Regions from separate parts of the Homo sapiens genome. Here region 2 is linked to region 1. Evidence: fine-mapped expression QTL. Tissue or cell type: whole blood. Region 1 holds a variant in brackets; the other region holds the start of a gene. All regions are shown on one strand. Distances are between the middles of the regions.

Region 1 (8,109 bases):
AACTGACCCTATCTCTAGGGTATTGCTTTTTCATTATCTGGGTGTGGTGGCATATGCTTGTAGTCTCAGCTACCCAGGAGACTGAGGTGGGAGGATCACTTGAGCACAGGAGGTAGAGGCTTCGATGAGCTATGATTGTACTATTGCACTTTATCCTGGGTAACAAATTGAGACTCTTGAGTCAAAAAAAAAGGGGGGGAGGGGAAGATAACATTCTGAGAGATATTCCTATTGCACAAGTGAGTAAATTCAAGAGCAGAAAAGTGACAGTGGGTTATGCCAGGTTATATCCTGCAAGCTCAACTGAGGCAAAAATCAGGACCTGGAAATCCTGGCTCCAGGGTGAAGGTTTTACCTTTTGATGCAATTGTTTTGCAGCACCCAAGAGGTCTCAGATTATATCTTCCATATTCATTCATTCATAAAATATATACTGAATGGCTGAGATATGACAGACACTTTGCTAAGTGCTAGAAAAGTCAAGGAAGAATAGGACACAATCGTAGCCATTGAGGGCAATATTTTGTGCAGCAGTCCTCCATTGTGGAACTGCAAAATACTACACCTAAATTCTCCACTGTGGGATTGGGAAAATATAGTTGTTTTTAAAGAAGTATTTTTTATTATAATAATAATTATATTTTTATTTTTATAAAATAAAAATCAAATTTTATATTATAAAATTATATTATAAAATTATAAAAATATAACTATAAAATAAAAATTTTATATTTATATTTATATTTATATTTTTTATTATTATTATAATTATTATTATTTTTGCTATATGAACATACAAGAAGAGACTTACTCTGATCTAGAGAAGTCAAAGAATGCTTCATAGAAAAGATGAAGAATCAGTAGGTGTTTCATAGGAAGAAGACAAGTAGATTCCATGTAATGGAAAGTCTATGCATAGCCTTGAAAACAAGAAAGAGTAGGAATATTTGAAAAATAGCAAACAAAACAAAATCCTTTGTCTGGGTTGTTTTATTAAGGTTAGAAAAGCTACCAAGAGTTAAATCGTGAAAGATCTTGCATGCTTATGGGTTAGAACTCATGCTGTAGGATTGAAGTTCTAAGAACAGATTTTAGCCACAGTAGTCACATGATGGTATTCTGGCTTTACAAAGTAGTTATGATTCAAATTAAACATTGAAAATTAAAGACAAACATTTATATATACTCTCTGGAGAAACCTATTGAAAATGACAGTAAGGGGATTTAAAAAGGTGTAAACTCCCAAGGACAAAGAGAGCTGTAGAGGAGACATCAGACAAAAGTTGACAATTGTATTTTGGAAGATGGAAAGCCAAAAAGAGAGGAGTTGTTGACTGAGTAAAGTGGGGAAAACAACCAAAACCTAAAAGCCTAATAAAACCTAAGAGGAAGCCAAGAAGAAGAAAGATAAGTTGCTCTAAAGAACTTAGGAAAGGTCAGGATTGATAGTTCTTGGTGTTGATGAAGATGACAGGAATGGGTGGAGCCAAAGGCAAAGACTTTGTTGAATGTCTATAAAAGTAAGTTATAGAGTCTTCACCATGCCTCCAGTCAGATGAGCGTCTCTCCTCTTCCCTGGTAGAAGGCAGGATGTTTGCTCTCTGGAGAGGCTGAACCAGCAGGGTTCTGGACTCAGTGATACTGGGGAGTAGGGTAAGAGGCTGGACAGAAACAGAAGGATTAAGTGAAAGTCCACATACTGAAGGGGGACACGTGGAAACCTTCATGCAGCTCCATGAACACAGACATCAAAGCCTATGCTCCCTACAGAGGAGACTGGCAAGTTCTTCTTTGGAGAAAGTGACCAACCCTAAGGAAAACACCTACTAATACTGACATGGCAGTCACCCAACGAAGTGCCTGGCTCCTGCCTATCATTCTACAGTGCAGTCCACCAGTCTGCAAGTCCTACCAAAGCACACAGGGCTTCCAATCAACATTTTATTCCCTGACGCCTAAATGTAGGCAGCCAAAGATCTCCAGATACATTAGGAAACTCTCCAATATGAGAGACAGGTTTTAAAAACAAGAGCAATGACAAATAAATAGAAAACAAAAACATGAAGAAAAGAGGCAATGCAAGAGAAGACTTCAGAAACCCTCCTTTAAGAGTTCCTGCACCTAGATAATAAGATGCTATAAAAATCTCTTAAAAATTAAAATGTTAAAGTAGAAATGTTTTTAAAAATCCACAAAGAATTGGCAGGTAAAATTAAGAATATCTTTTAGAAGGCAGTACAAAAGAAACAAACAAAAAAACCACAATGAGTAAAGATAAGAAAGTAAAATACCCATATCAAGGTATGTCATTGTGAAATTTCAAAATACTAGGAATAAAAAATAAAACTCTTTAAAACTCCAAAGAAACAAATAGTTTCCACATAAAGTTGATTCAAAATGTACTGGACTTCTTAACAGTAACAGTAGAAGCTAAAAAGCAATGTAGAAATGACTTAAAGATCCCAAGGAAAACAATTACTTTCTACCAAGGCTTTACTCCCTGGCCAATCTCTCATTTCACTGTGAAATTAGAATCAAGGTATTGTCAGGTATGTAAAGTGTGGTATACAGTATTTATGCTCCCCAATATCTGGTTCCCCTTTCCTTCCTGGGTGCAAAGAGGACTACACTTCCCAGGCTTCTCCAAGTTAGGCAGGGCCACACGTTCTGATCATGGCTGTGAACAGAAGTGACATAGACTTTCTGGCCAAATAGTTAGACAGGAGTATGAACTCCACGCTTTCTGAAGACGTCTGATGTTGAAATGGTGGAGCCACGAGATTGAAGCAGTTTGCATTACTGGATCACCACATGAAAGATAGTTGCCCTGGAGAGTTACCCAACTTCCAGCCAACTTGGTGTGACCCAGAAAAAGACTTGACATGTTAACCCATTAAGAAGTGAAGCTACATTTTCTTAATCTAGTCTATCATTGTTGGACATTTAGGTTCGTTCCAAGTCTTTGCTATTGTGAATAGTGCCACAATAAACATATGTATGCATGTGTCTTTATAGCAGCATGATTTATAATCCTTTGAGTATATACCCAGTAATGGGATGGCTGGGTCATTAGGAGATATACCTAATGTTAATGACTAGTTAATGGGTGCAGCACACCAACATGGCACATGTATACATATGTAACAAACCTGCACGTTGTGCACATGTACCCTAAAACTTAAAGTATAATAAAAAAAAAAGAAATGAAGCTTATTTTTTTCTGCAGCATAGTCTAGCCTAACCTAATGTATAACCTATCAAAGATATTTCTAACTGTACCATTTCTCAAGAAGTTAATGGCTACCCTATGACCCAGCAATTCCACCTCTAGGTGATATTCCCCAAAAGAAATGAGTGCATGCGTGCAACAAAAGACAGGGACCAGACTGGTTGTAGCAGCTTTATTTATTATATCCAAATACTTTACATTCATACCACATAAAATAGCAAAAACAAACAACAAAATAAACAACTGGTACATGCAACAACATGGATGACTCTCCCAAGCATGATGCAAGAATACCAAACACAAAACAGTACATACTGTATGATGATTTTATATAAAGTTCAAGAACAGGCAAAACTCATTGATGGTGGTAGAAGCCAGAGTAGCGATGACCGTGTTGAAGGTACGGGGTAGGATAGAGGTTACTGATGGGGAAGAGGCATGAGGGAGCCTTGAAGAGTTTGGGAACTATTCAATATCTTGATCTGGATGTCAGTTACGTGAATGTCTGTGTATACAAAAATGCATTGGGCTGAGCACTTAAGTTAGTGCATTTAAGTTTAGCAAACAGTTTGGTACACTTCAATTTAAAAAAATGTTTAGGCCAGGTGCGGTGGCTCACCCCTGTAATCCCAGCACCTTGGGAGGCCAAGGCGGACAGATCACCTGAGGTCAGGAATTCGAGACCAGTGTGGCCACCATGGTGAAACCACGTCTCTACTAAAAATACAAAAATTAGCCAGGCATGGTGGAGGGTGCCTGTAATCCCAGCTACTTGGGAGGCTGAGGCAGGAGAATCACTTGAACCCAGGAGGCAGAAGTTGTAGTGAGCCCAGATTGCACCACGGCACTCCAGCCTGGGTGACAAGAGCAAAACTCCATCTCAAAAAAAAAAAAATAAATAAAATAAAATTTTCAAATGTTTAAAAAGCAGCTGCTGGAGATTGTGCTTTACCAAAGTGAGGAACAAACCCAAACTGGAAAAGCATGGGATACAGGCAATAGGAAATTGCGTGGAGGACACAGATGAAAGGGATTCCTATGAAGACTGAGCTCCAGGATGGCAGTTGCAGAGTAGTCAGGAGTGACAGGAGCTAGAGACAAAGGAATTAAAGTGGGGAAGCATCTAGAAGAAAAAAAATGAAAAGAAAAAGAAACTGATAGATTATCTTAGAGTCCAACTCTATTCAAGGGAGTATCACAATTCTACCAAAGAATTTAGGGAGAAATTCCTAATAAGCATAAAAAACTAAGCAACAACAAAAAATAAGCTATTACTAATGAAAAAAAGAAACCCACAAAAGGTTACATAAACATGTTACCATAGTACACTATATGACTCAGCTTTAAATTTAGCCAGAATATTGTTAGACGATTATGTTGGGAGGATGAGAGGAAGGACAAAGTGGGGGCATGGGAGGAATGCAGCCAGAGGGGTATGGTAAGAAAGCTAAATTCTCATCAGCCCCAGAAGAAAACCAGTAGAAAGTGACTACACTTGAAACGAAATGAAATAACTGCACTTGCATATTATTTAGGAACATGAAAGTAAATCACAAACAGTTGAAAGTGTTTAGACTCAGAGTGGAGAGGGGTAGAGAGAGGACTGATATTTTTATTGTTGTATTGACTTCTACATTACATACATAAAGTATTTCAGCACTATGCTGAAGCAATTTTTAAAATTTCAGAAGACCAGGTGCGGTGGCTCACGCCTGTAATCCCAGCACTTTGGGAGGCCAAGGCAGGCAGATCACAAGGTCAGGAGATCGAGACCATCCTGGCTAATACAGTGAAACTCC[G/A]TCTCTACTAAAAGTACAAAAAAATTTGCCAGGCATGGTGGCAGGCGCCTGTAGTCCCAGCTACTCAGGAGGCTGAGGCAGGAGAATCGCTTGAACCCGGGAGGCTGAGCTTGCAGTGAGCAGAGATCACACCACTGCACTCTAGCCTGGGCAAAAGAGTGAGACTGTCTCAAAAAAAAAAAAAATTTTTCAGAAAACTCTAAGAAATAAAAAATAAAGTGACTCATTTGAAAACACATTTTGATTCCAATTGGTTTTTTGCTGTTGTTGTTTTTGTTTTGCTTTTTTTTTTCTTTTTTTTTTTTTTAAGATGGAATCTCTCCCTGTCCCATAGGCTGGAGTACAGTGGTGTGATCTCAGCCCACTGCAACCTCCCGCCTCCTGGGCTCAAATGATTCTCCTGAGTCAGCCTCCCAAGTAGGTGGGACTACAGGCACATGCTCCAGTTGATTTTTTTAAAAACACATACATAGCACATAGTAAGTTGCATAGAGAGGAATTTGTGGCAGGTTATAAAATCACACTGTAATCCTCTTAGAGATCCAAAAAGCTGGGACATTAAACTCGGTCAGCCACCAGTGCTTACTTCAAAGGAAACAGAGTCATGAGATACAAGTGTAAGTTCTATCAGCTTTCAGCTCCATCACAGCTAATGGCATGATAATATTGTACCAGTTTAGAACTTTTAGGTGTAATCACTTTTTGTTATTATTTCAAATCACAACTGCACAACTTAAATGTGCTTTTAAAAAATTAGGTTCTATTAAAGAAAAAATGATTCCTTTATTTAAACAAGGCAATCTGTACCTACAAGGGGCTACACCTACAACTTCTAGAGGCCTATGAAAACCACCAGTGGAAACCACATGTGGAAAAAAATAGGTGCTGGGCTAGTTAAAATGCTAATACAATTTCAAGTATTACTGTATTTTTTTTCTAAAAAGGAAGACAACACAATAGTGTTTTGAAAACTATAGTATAGGAAAGTATATGTGTTATATGTGTGTGGTATAAATGAAATAAATCTTGATAATACAATTTAAGTCTCCTTGGATTTGGCTCTGAAAAAGAAATACTTAATGACAATGAATAATTAAAGGAAGTTTGAATGACAGGTCTAAGAAAAAATATTTTTTTTTGAGACAGGATCTCATTCTGTCACCCAAGTTGGAGTGCAATGGTGTGATCTCGGTGCACTGCAGCCTCGAACTCCTAGGCTCAATTGATCCTCCCACCTCAACCTCCTGAATGGCTGGGACTATAGGCTACAGGCATGCACCATCATGCCCAGCTAATTTTTGGTAGAGATGGGTTTTCACCATGTTGCTCAGGCTGAAAATCTTAAATTAAGCTTATAGTTCTGTGTTTCAGACATTTTGAGAAAAAATATTCCATACTAGAATGATGAATGTATCTTTTTAGTCCTCAGCTTTTTCTTTGTTACTGCCTATACATCACAGGCTCTTTATTAGAACTATATTTCTAGCCAATGATAAAAAACAAAAAACTACTAGTTGGTGGTACTTTTATCAAATTCCATTTGCTGCAGATATTTAGATTTTTGTTAGCCAAGACTTTCAGAACTACTGCTATGTGATTATAAGAATTTATTCATGACACCTTCAAATCAACACAATCTATTTTCTTCAGATTCTAATTAGTTATCAATATTTCAAAATTAATATTTAGCAGTTGTCAATCTTTAAATGCAAGAGATGTTTACCATGATTTTATTCTCATAATGTCCACATTATTGAAAAATAAACCAAAAGATAAGAGAAAAATGCTAGCAAATGGCTAGCTACCTTAAAAAAAGGAGGTGCATTTGATTGAGACTTTTGATTTTGATGGTTCTTATCTTATAGAATCCATTTCAGAACTAAATAGACCTAGGTATATAAGGATGAGGCAACAAAGATATTTCTTCCATTCTGTGACTTGGAATAGCCATACTCCACTCACATACAATGTGTTTTGGTTTGAAAATATGTTTTCAAAAATATGAATTACTAGACAGAACATGATAAAAGCTCTGTGTCTTCATATAGCTAGGCCAGTTTGAGAAATTATGTAAGTTTAGTAGCAGCAAAATGTTCACCAAGTATTCATTGGTTTAATATTTTTAGTAGCTTATTAAAAAAAGCTATTTCTATTTGTTTATTTGTGATGTTTGGGAAATAAACATGCTGATAATTCTTTCGTAAGATACTTTTTAAGATTGAGACCCCATGAGGTACCGAAAAAAGCATTCACTTCTCTCACACTTGAGGTCACAAATTTTTGCAAGTCAAAAATGTTGGCCATGCCAAAAACATCATGCTGCACACTACCAAATAAAAGAACACTGTTATTCTTACAAGGAAAGGTTTGACAAGACAGGAAATAGGCAGGGTCAGAGAGGTTTACTTAATACGGAGACTCATTTAACCATCATGAAGCCAAAATACAATGACAGTTAAAAAAAATAAACAAATAGCTGTTACACAAAACAAAACCCCAGGATACATGGTCTCTACTGGAACTGATTATTAGAGTTTTAGCAAATACAGGAAGTGGATAACCCCAGAGAACCCTCACAACATTTCTAGACGTCTTCTCCATTTACTTTTGTCACATGCGCTTTACTGAGATAATGAAGATTAAAACAGTTTTGATTTGTGGGTAGAAATTTGAACAAAGAAGGATTGATCTTAAAATGCTGCAAGTAACCTCATTAAAGGGCAATCATTTTAAAAGTCACATTCTCCTAAAAATGGGGAAGGAGGAGGAAGAAAAAAATGAAAGATAGGAAAAATCTAGCTGTTCATTACAATTTTCCATTTTTGTTTAAACACAGCAGGAGGGCAAAGCTGCTGGCTTCTCTGGTCCTTACAAATGCCAGGAGAGATTATACAAACCCTGCAACCACCCAAATCTTATTTAAAGTTAAAATCATTGTTCTCATCTAATGACTTTTGCCTGCTTTCACTCAAATATTGCAGCATTTTGTTTTCTGCCAGCTTGGACCCATTGAGAATTGTAGACTTATAATTGCAGATAAACTATGAAAAAACAAAAACAAAACAAAAAAACTACCTTTTA
Region 2 (8,109 bases), 180 kb after region 1:
AAGCTATTGTCACCATAGAAATGTTAGCCACCATTTTTGTCTAGTTTCTTTTTCTTTTAAATTTTATTATTATCCCTAAAACTTAATTCTTAAAGACAAAATAAATTAAAAAAAAGAAGAATGATGACATCCATTCTCTTCTTCATTGGTAACAGAACCCTGGGCAGTAAGCCCAGCCCCCAAATTATTTGCCAACCTCCCCCACAGATGAGTGTGTCATGTGACTAAGTTCTTGCCCATAAGCGGAAGTGTTGTGTGAGACTTCTGGATAGGTCCCTTTTTTTCTGGACTCCTTCTGACCTACAATGCCGACAAGGTGCCTCGATCTCCAGCAGCCATCTTGGGTCATAGGGCAACCTTAAGAATGGAAGCCTCACACTAGGATGGCGAAAGATTAAGGTAGCAGGAACCTGACTTCACGATGACTGTGAAGCTACTATATATCCTCTGGGATGCTCCTTCTGCATTTATTTTACTTAAGAGAGTAAAAATGTATATCTTGCTTAAGACACTATTATTTCTAGTTATTGTTATTAGCAGATGAACACAATTCCTAAGTGATACATATATTAAGGTATTAATTGAAAATATTTTGTGATTTCTAGGATTAGATTTCTAGATACGTGTAATAGCTTTTCCCCTATCCCGCCAGGTACACACACATAAACATGCATTCTAATTTGTAAGAAAGAAAACTAAGTGATTATGTGAAGTTGTACCAGTAATATATTTTGTGCAATTGCAAAGGATAATGCTTTTGCAATGTGAATCATGGGAAAATAAGAATTTGAGCATCACTTAAGAATTTTTCAATGTACCTACATGCACTAAAAAACAAACAAACAAAAAACAAAAAACCAAGGCCGGGCGCTCTGGCTCACGCCTGTAATCCCAGCAATTTGGGAGGCCAAGGCAGGCAGATCACAGGGTCAGGAGATGGAGACCATCCTGGCTAACACGGTGAAACCTGTTTCTACTAAAAATACAAAAAATTAGCCGGGCCTGCTGGCGGGCGCCTGTAGTCCCAGCTACTCAGGAGGCTGAGGCAGGAGAACGGTATGAACGCGGGAGGTGGAGCTTGCAGTGAGCAGAGATGGCGCCACTGCACTCCAGCCTGGGTGACAGAGCGAGACTCCATCTCAAAAAAGACAAAACAAAACAAAACAAACCAAAACAGTAGAGAGGAAGACAAGCAAATACAGAAATGGAATTCAGCAACAGAATATTAATAGTTTTTTCTTTATCTTTTGCAATTAATAGCAAGAAAGGAAGGAAAGATCAATCTATTGAGCAGTCAGATGGAATGGTAAAGATTAATCATTCTCTTCCCTTCAGAAGTTGCCTTAATTCTTTGTCTTTTAAGATCCAGCTCTTTTATAAGGCCCTCACCAATCTCTCAGTAGGAATTAACCTCTGCTCTTTATCAGGACTAGAACCAAGCTACAGCGGGTGAGGCATTTGTCTTGGGTACAAAAGTTAAAACTCAGTAATCAAGATAAATATTTTAATGGAATATTTTAATTGGCAAACTAAGGCATGTGGGCCAGTCTCCTGTTTTTGTAAATAATTTTTTAATTATACTTTGCTTTTATTTGTATTATAGCACTTAAATAGTACTTTTTACATTAGCCCTCTCCCAACAGGGCTGTACTCATTTTTGTATTCCTCATGTACCTACTACTCTGTTTGAAGCATAAAGGCCTCTTAAAAAAATCTTGCATTGAGTTGATTAAAGGATTTTTGCAAGAATATATTGTACTGGTGATGGTGGGGTTCAATTTTCATACTGAATTCAACAATAGCAAAAGAATAACAGAATGATGACTATTTTGAAAGTACTTATAATTTAGTGCTGTGGGAAAAATCACTTGGCTTGTCTTTGACTAAAACCCTGCTGAGCTTAGGGAGATAGAGAATTGTAATATTACATTATGTTCATATAGCACTTTTTCCTACATAAAGTGCTTTCTTTTAATCCTCACCTCAATCCTGTAAGGTCGGTATTGCTATCCCTATTTATTGTAGAGAGATTGAGAAATGAGGTGACTTGCCCAGGGAGTTATGGGCAAAAAGAGGCAGAGCTGGGGTTCTAACCCAGATTTTGTCTGTCACAATTGAATGCCCTTTCTGCGATTATAAATCTTATGTCTCAGAGTTGAATGAGAAACAATTTATACAGCAACTACAATAGCATTCTTATCATTAAAATGTTCTGATTATGTGTGTGTGTGTTTGTGTATGTGTGTGTGTGTATGTGTGTGTGTGATGAAGTAGCTGAACTTGGTATTTTTCGGTAGAGGGTAGGAAACTACACATTGAAAAGCCGAAGATGAAATTATGTTATTTGAGTATTACTTTCTAACTATAACTTTACCACTGATGTGTGTATGATATTCTGCAAAGTGACTAAACTGTACGTGTTTGCTTCTTCATGGAAAAAAAATTTGGGAAGGCATTTAAACTTTTCAGCTGAAAAAGGTTATGTCAATGTGAAAGATTATAGTACTCGAGAATTAGGAGTTGATTAAATTTAACGGTTTCCTTTTCATACTTAGGGGGAAAAATCTACGACTGTATTTTAAAACTCCATATGGCAATTAAATTTGAGAGCGTATAACTAACTACTTCACTAGAATTTCCATCAGTATACAATAAACACACAGTCAAAACCTCAAATGTCCATTATTAGCCCATCTAGTAGACGATATTTTATAATTATGGATTCCCCATATTGATTGATGTCCAGAGAAAAACTGCAGTCTTCTCTTACTAAGCTGATAGTTGAGTTCCTGGGAAATCCTCACCCCCTAAGAACAAATAATTCTCAAAGAAATTCAAAGTCATTCCTTTTGGTGAATTGCAATCAGTCATCAATAACTATTTATGGAATGTCCGAAGGGTGCCTAGGCATTGAAATGGCAAGAGACTTATATTTGCTTAATTCAAAGGATTTCTAAAGGCAGTCTGAGGACTTGCAAGAAGTCTTTAAAGATGCAAAGTGGTGTGTTCTTTAACTGCCCCTACCTGGAATGAATTGAACAGTCTGGGTGTTAGGGCTTTGATGTCTAATCCCGCTTTGCAAGCGAAGACTCCACTGGTGCCAAGCGACAGGCGGGCTGGTGGGCAGACATGGCACCACCACCGGGGGCTTTCAGGACTGGTCCAGCCCTCCCAGGCAGGTGTAGGGCCGACTGCAGCAACAGCGGCCCTGACCCCAGCTCCCATGGCTCCCCTCCCCCCGCACTCCCACCCCCCGCACCCGGCACACACCATCTCCCAGTCACCCAGTCTCGACCGGTTCTCGCGAGATCCGGGTTACTGAGCGCTCGGGGCCTTTTCAAATCGGGATCCGTTACCGCTTCCCCGGCAGCCGCCATTGTCGCGCTCGGAGCCCCTCAGCTCAGGCGGCCGAGGCGGAGGCAGCGGCGGCGGGATGGCGGACGCCAACAAGGCCGAGGTGCCCGGGGCCACTGGTGGCGACAGCCCGCACCTGCAGCCCGCAGAGCCGCCGGGCGAGCCGCGGCGAGAGCCGCACCCCGCGGAGGCGGAGAAGCAGCAGCCGCAGCACAGCAGCAGCTCCAATGGCGTTAAAATGTATTGTCTTTTCCTCCGGGAACCGGGGCGAGGTGGGGGGCGGGGAGTCTACCGGGCGGCTAGAGGCCGGGCTGTGCCCCGATGGGGGACAACCACCCCCAGACCCCGGCCCGCCCCCGGGCCATCGGCTTCCTGAGGAGCAGGTGCAGCTGGGCCGCTCCCAGGCCCTTCCCCGCCCGCCCCAGGCCTGGCCGCCTGTGGTCTGGGAGCCGGGGCTGGGGGCCCGGGGACCAGCGCTCTTCCCTGATTTCTAGCCCGAGACAGCGAACACCCCTCTTCCCTGACTTTGGTTAAAGAATCTTTGAGCAAAGCTCAGCGACCGCCACGGTTTGCAGGAAAATGGTCCCCCTTTAAGGACCAGTAGTTAGTGTTCATCACTAGGGAGTATCTAGGGATGACATCATCGGACATTTCCTCTTAACCACCGAGAACATATTTAAAAGGAATATTCCTGGCTTCTTTCTGAGCTTCACAAGTTTAGTGTTTTGTTGTTTTCTAAAGTGTATGTTCATTTTTAAACTGATTTATACCGAGAGGAAGTTTAATAATGTGCTGTTAGACTCTATGTTTTGTGTTACTCTTGAATTGGCTAGACGTACTTTAAAAAGGGAAATGTGCGATGTGCGTGGCTTCCCTTCCCACTGGGTAATGTGCGTCAGCTGTGGAGAGTATTTTTTTTTTTAACTCAGTGTATGATTATCTTAAGTTTGGTATAATAGATGGTTAAGATTTTTTTTTTCCCAAATGAAGGAAGACTTTTAAGGTCGCAGCTGTCACCAGTGCCTATAAAGAATTTAGTTGACCCCAATCCATAATAATTTCTGGTTCTAGGGAAATGTTATGCTCTCCTTTGTTCCTGTCCTGTGGGAGGATATGAAGTTAAGCGCTTACTTTCATATGCCTACCTCCTTAAACCTGAAGTTGAAAGTATGTTAATAATTAAGTGAAAACATCCTTTTCCTTCTCTGTTATGCCTCAGAGCAGAAAGCAATAGATATATGCTCACAGTAAAATAGACAAGGGAAAGGTCTTTCTGACCTTTGTATAAGCATGTTTGAAATTGTATGGTAAGAACTGGACCAGTCTGTGTAAAAGTTGGTGGCAAAAAAGATGGGGTAGCTCTCCCCAGCTCTTTGACACTCTTGCTCTCAAATGAGTTTGAACAGGATCGGCAGCATCTTCTAGGAGAATAGAGGTGCAGGTATAAGAGATTGGAACTTAGTGGAGTTTATTCCTGGATGAAGAGTGGTGCACCTCAGTAATTGAGGAACCAGAAAGGGAATGAAGTGCTTTCTACCATGCTTGCCAAAATGTGGGCTTTCTGGAATTTGGCATTAAAAATAGAAATGAAAACCGGTGGAATGATAAACTTAAAAATATGTGCTATTCATATCTAAACACGAGTATACATGCCACCTTTTCTCCTGAACAAAAAGTGCAGCCTTGAATTACAGAGAGAAGCCCTCCTATACTTGGGTATGATTAGTTTTGATATAGGGGAAGTTTGGTATCTAAACCTCCATCAGATTTTCTATTCCCTTCTAAAGTCTCTTCATGATTTAGCAAGACAGGAAAAGAGAAAGGAGAAAGGTGGAGAAAGAATCCTTTTCTAATTTAGGAAGAGAAAAATATAAGGTGAAGAAATGAAGAAATATTACTAGTAAATACAGATTATTTCCATATTGCTTATAATTCGCCTCTCCCTTTCTCTTTTTCCCAGAAGTTGAATCGAGTCCAATTTACTCTCAGGGATTTCTCTTACTGTCTATTCCATAAGAAGATTTGTGATGGTCCAGCATGAGTCATTCAAACTGAATAACTAGCGACCTAGTCCTTTTTTTTTTTTTTTTTTTTTTTACTTCGTGAACTAGTAGGAGTGGATAACAACCCCAATACATAAACCTTGAGTTGATTACCATATACTTTTAATAATAAAAATAATTCATTGTTGATTATAAAAATTACCATAATATTGCCCCAAATTATGTATTGGTTGGAATTGAACAGAGTACTGCTTGTCATCAGGATTGAAATAATATTTGCTGAGGTTAATCCATAGTTATTGAGGGTGGGAGACCACTATGTCTTATTCTTCTTTGTATTCTTAAGGCCTAGTAAATATTTGTGGAAGAAATGCAGAAGTGAACTTTCATGCTTATGAAACTCATATACAGGGAATTTAGTTTGCATATTCACACCTTTAGAAAAGATCCGTTTTCCAACTGTAGTCTTCTTCTTTAACGCCAAATGGTATACTAGCTCTCCTTTTCTTAAAAATGAATAGGAGGGAAAAGAGCAGTATTATTATAACTTTATTATTCATGTGTAATTAAGTATAACTTTGGAGTAGGTAGAGATTGAGAGTTATATTAGGGTACTATAAAATATTAAGCATTGGAGCAAGGTAATGTGTTCTTTAGCTGAGTGATTTTTATTAGGAATAAAGACTAGAACTGTTTCCCCCAGCTTTATTGAGGTAAATTGACAAAAATTGTATATTTTGAAGTGTACAGTGTGATGGTTTGGTATACAAATAAATTGTGAAATGATTACCACAATCACGCTAATTAACGTATCTGTTACCTCGCATAGCTACCATATTTTTTGGTGTTGAAAATACTTAAGATCTATTCTTTAAGCAAATTTCAAGTATACAGTAAATATGTTAAGTATAGTCACTATACTGTACCTTAGATCTACAGAACTTACTCATCTTATAACTGAAAGTTTGTGCCCTTAGAACATTTCCCCATCCCCTGCTGCCCTCCACCTCTGGTAAACACCCTTCTACTCTCTGCTTCTGAGTTTGACTTTTTTAAAAGTCTGTGTGTAAGTGAGATCATGTAGCATTTGTCTTTCTGAGTCTGGCTTTTTTCACATAGCCCAATGTCCTCTAGGTTTATCTCTGTTGTTGCAAATGGCAAGATTTTGTTCTTTTTGTAAGGCTGAATAATAATATTCCAGTGTGGATGTGTTGTGTAAACATAAAATATAATATATATCATGTTTCCTTTAATCATTTATCTGTCAATGGACACTTAAGTCGTTGTTTCCATATCTTGGGTATTGTGGATGATGCAGCGAACATGGGAGTGCAGATATCTCCTTGAGATAGTGATTTCATTTTCATTGGATATATACCCAGAAGTGGCATTGATGAATCATGTGGTAGTTCTGTTTTTAATTTTTTGTGGACCCTTGATGCTGTTTTCCATAATGGCTGTACCAATGTATATTCCCACCAGCAGTATCTAAAGGTTCTTTCTCCACGTCCTCAGCAACAGTTGCTATCTTTTGACTTTTCGATAAGTCATCCTAACAGGTATGAAGTGATATTGCAGTCTGGTTTTGAGTTGTATTTCCCTGATGAACAGTGATATTGAGCACCTTTTCATATACCTTTTGGCCGTTGGTATGTCTTCTTTGGAAAAATTATCTGTTTGGATCCTTTTCTCATTTTTTAAATTGGGTTGCTATTGAGTTGTATGGGTTCCTTATACATTTTTGATATTAATCCCTTATTGGATATATGGTTTGCAAATTTTATCTCTCATTTCTTAGGTTGCCTTTTTATTTTGTTGAGTTTCCTTTGCTGTGCAATAACTTTTTACTTTGATGTAGTCCCAGTTGTTTACTTTTGTTTGTGTTGTCTGTGCTTTTGGTGTCATATCAAAAAAAAAAAAAATCATTGCCAAGGCCAAGGTCATGGAGCTTTTCTCTTGTGTTTTCTTCTAGGAGTTCCATGGTTTTAGGTGTTATAAGTTTTTAATCCATTTTCATTTTGTTTTGTATGTGGATATCTAGTTTTCCCAATACCATTTTTTGAAGAGACTGTCCTTTCACCATTGTATATTTTTGGTGCCTTTGTCAAGGATTAGTTTACCATATATTGGGGATGTGTTTTTGAGTGTTTGTTATGCTCCATTGGTCTGTGTGTCTGTTTTTGTACCAGTACCATATTGTTTTGATTACTATAGATTTGTAATATAACTTGAATCAGGTAGTGTGGTACTTTTAGTTTTTTCTTCTTGTTTAAGCTTGCTTTAGCCATTTGAGATCTTTTATGGTTCATACGGATTTCAGGAATTTTTCCGTTTCTGTGAAAAATGCTGTTAGAATTTTGATAGAGATCACATTGAATTTATAGGTCATTTTGGGTAGGAAGGACATTTTGACAATATTAATTCCTCTCATCTGTGAACATGGAATATCTTTCATTTGTATTATTTTCAATTTCTTTTATCATTGTTTGATCGTTTTTCAGTGTATAGCTCTTTAGCTTTCTTGGTTAAATTTATTTCTAGGTATTTTATTCTTTCTGATGCTATTTTAAATGAGATTATGTTCTTAATTTTTTGGATAGTTCATTATTATTAGTGTGTAGATATGCAGTGGATTTTTGAATGTTGACTTTGTATTCTATAACTTTACTGAATTTGTTCTAATAGTTTTTTTGGTGTTGTCTTTAAAATTTTCTCTGAATAATTTTCTATATAAGATCACATCTTCTGCAAA

The links. PIP is the estimated chance that this variant, and not a neighbour inherited with it, causes the effect.
Region 2: it holds the start of MYEF2, and the variant in region 1 is fine-mapped to the expression of MYEF2 in whole blood (INTERVAL, PIP 0.93).

Annotation. Positions count from the first base shown.
Region 1 is chr15:48,358,349-48,366,457 of GRCh38, reverse strand. No RefSeq gene overlaps it. Among named protein-coding and RNA genes, the nearest start is that of DUT-AS1, 31 kb to the right of the region's middle. The variant G/A (reference allele first, on the strand shown) is at 5,029.
Region 2 is chr15:48,173,562-48,181,670 of GRCh38, reverse strand. It overlaps MYEF2 (myelin expression factor 2), which reads left to right and starts at 3,376. Exons shown (of 17, transcript NM_016132.5): 1 at 3,376-3,594. The coding sequence starts at 3,434. It also overlaps a transcript of CTXN2 not described here. RefSeq lists silencers at 3,135-3,234, 3,405-3,834, 3,865-4,034 and an enhancer at 2,781-3,432.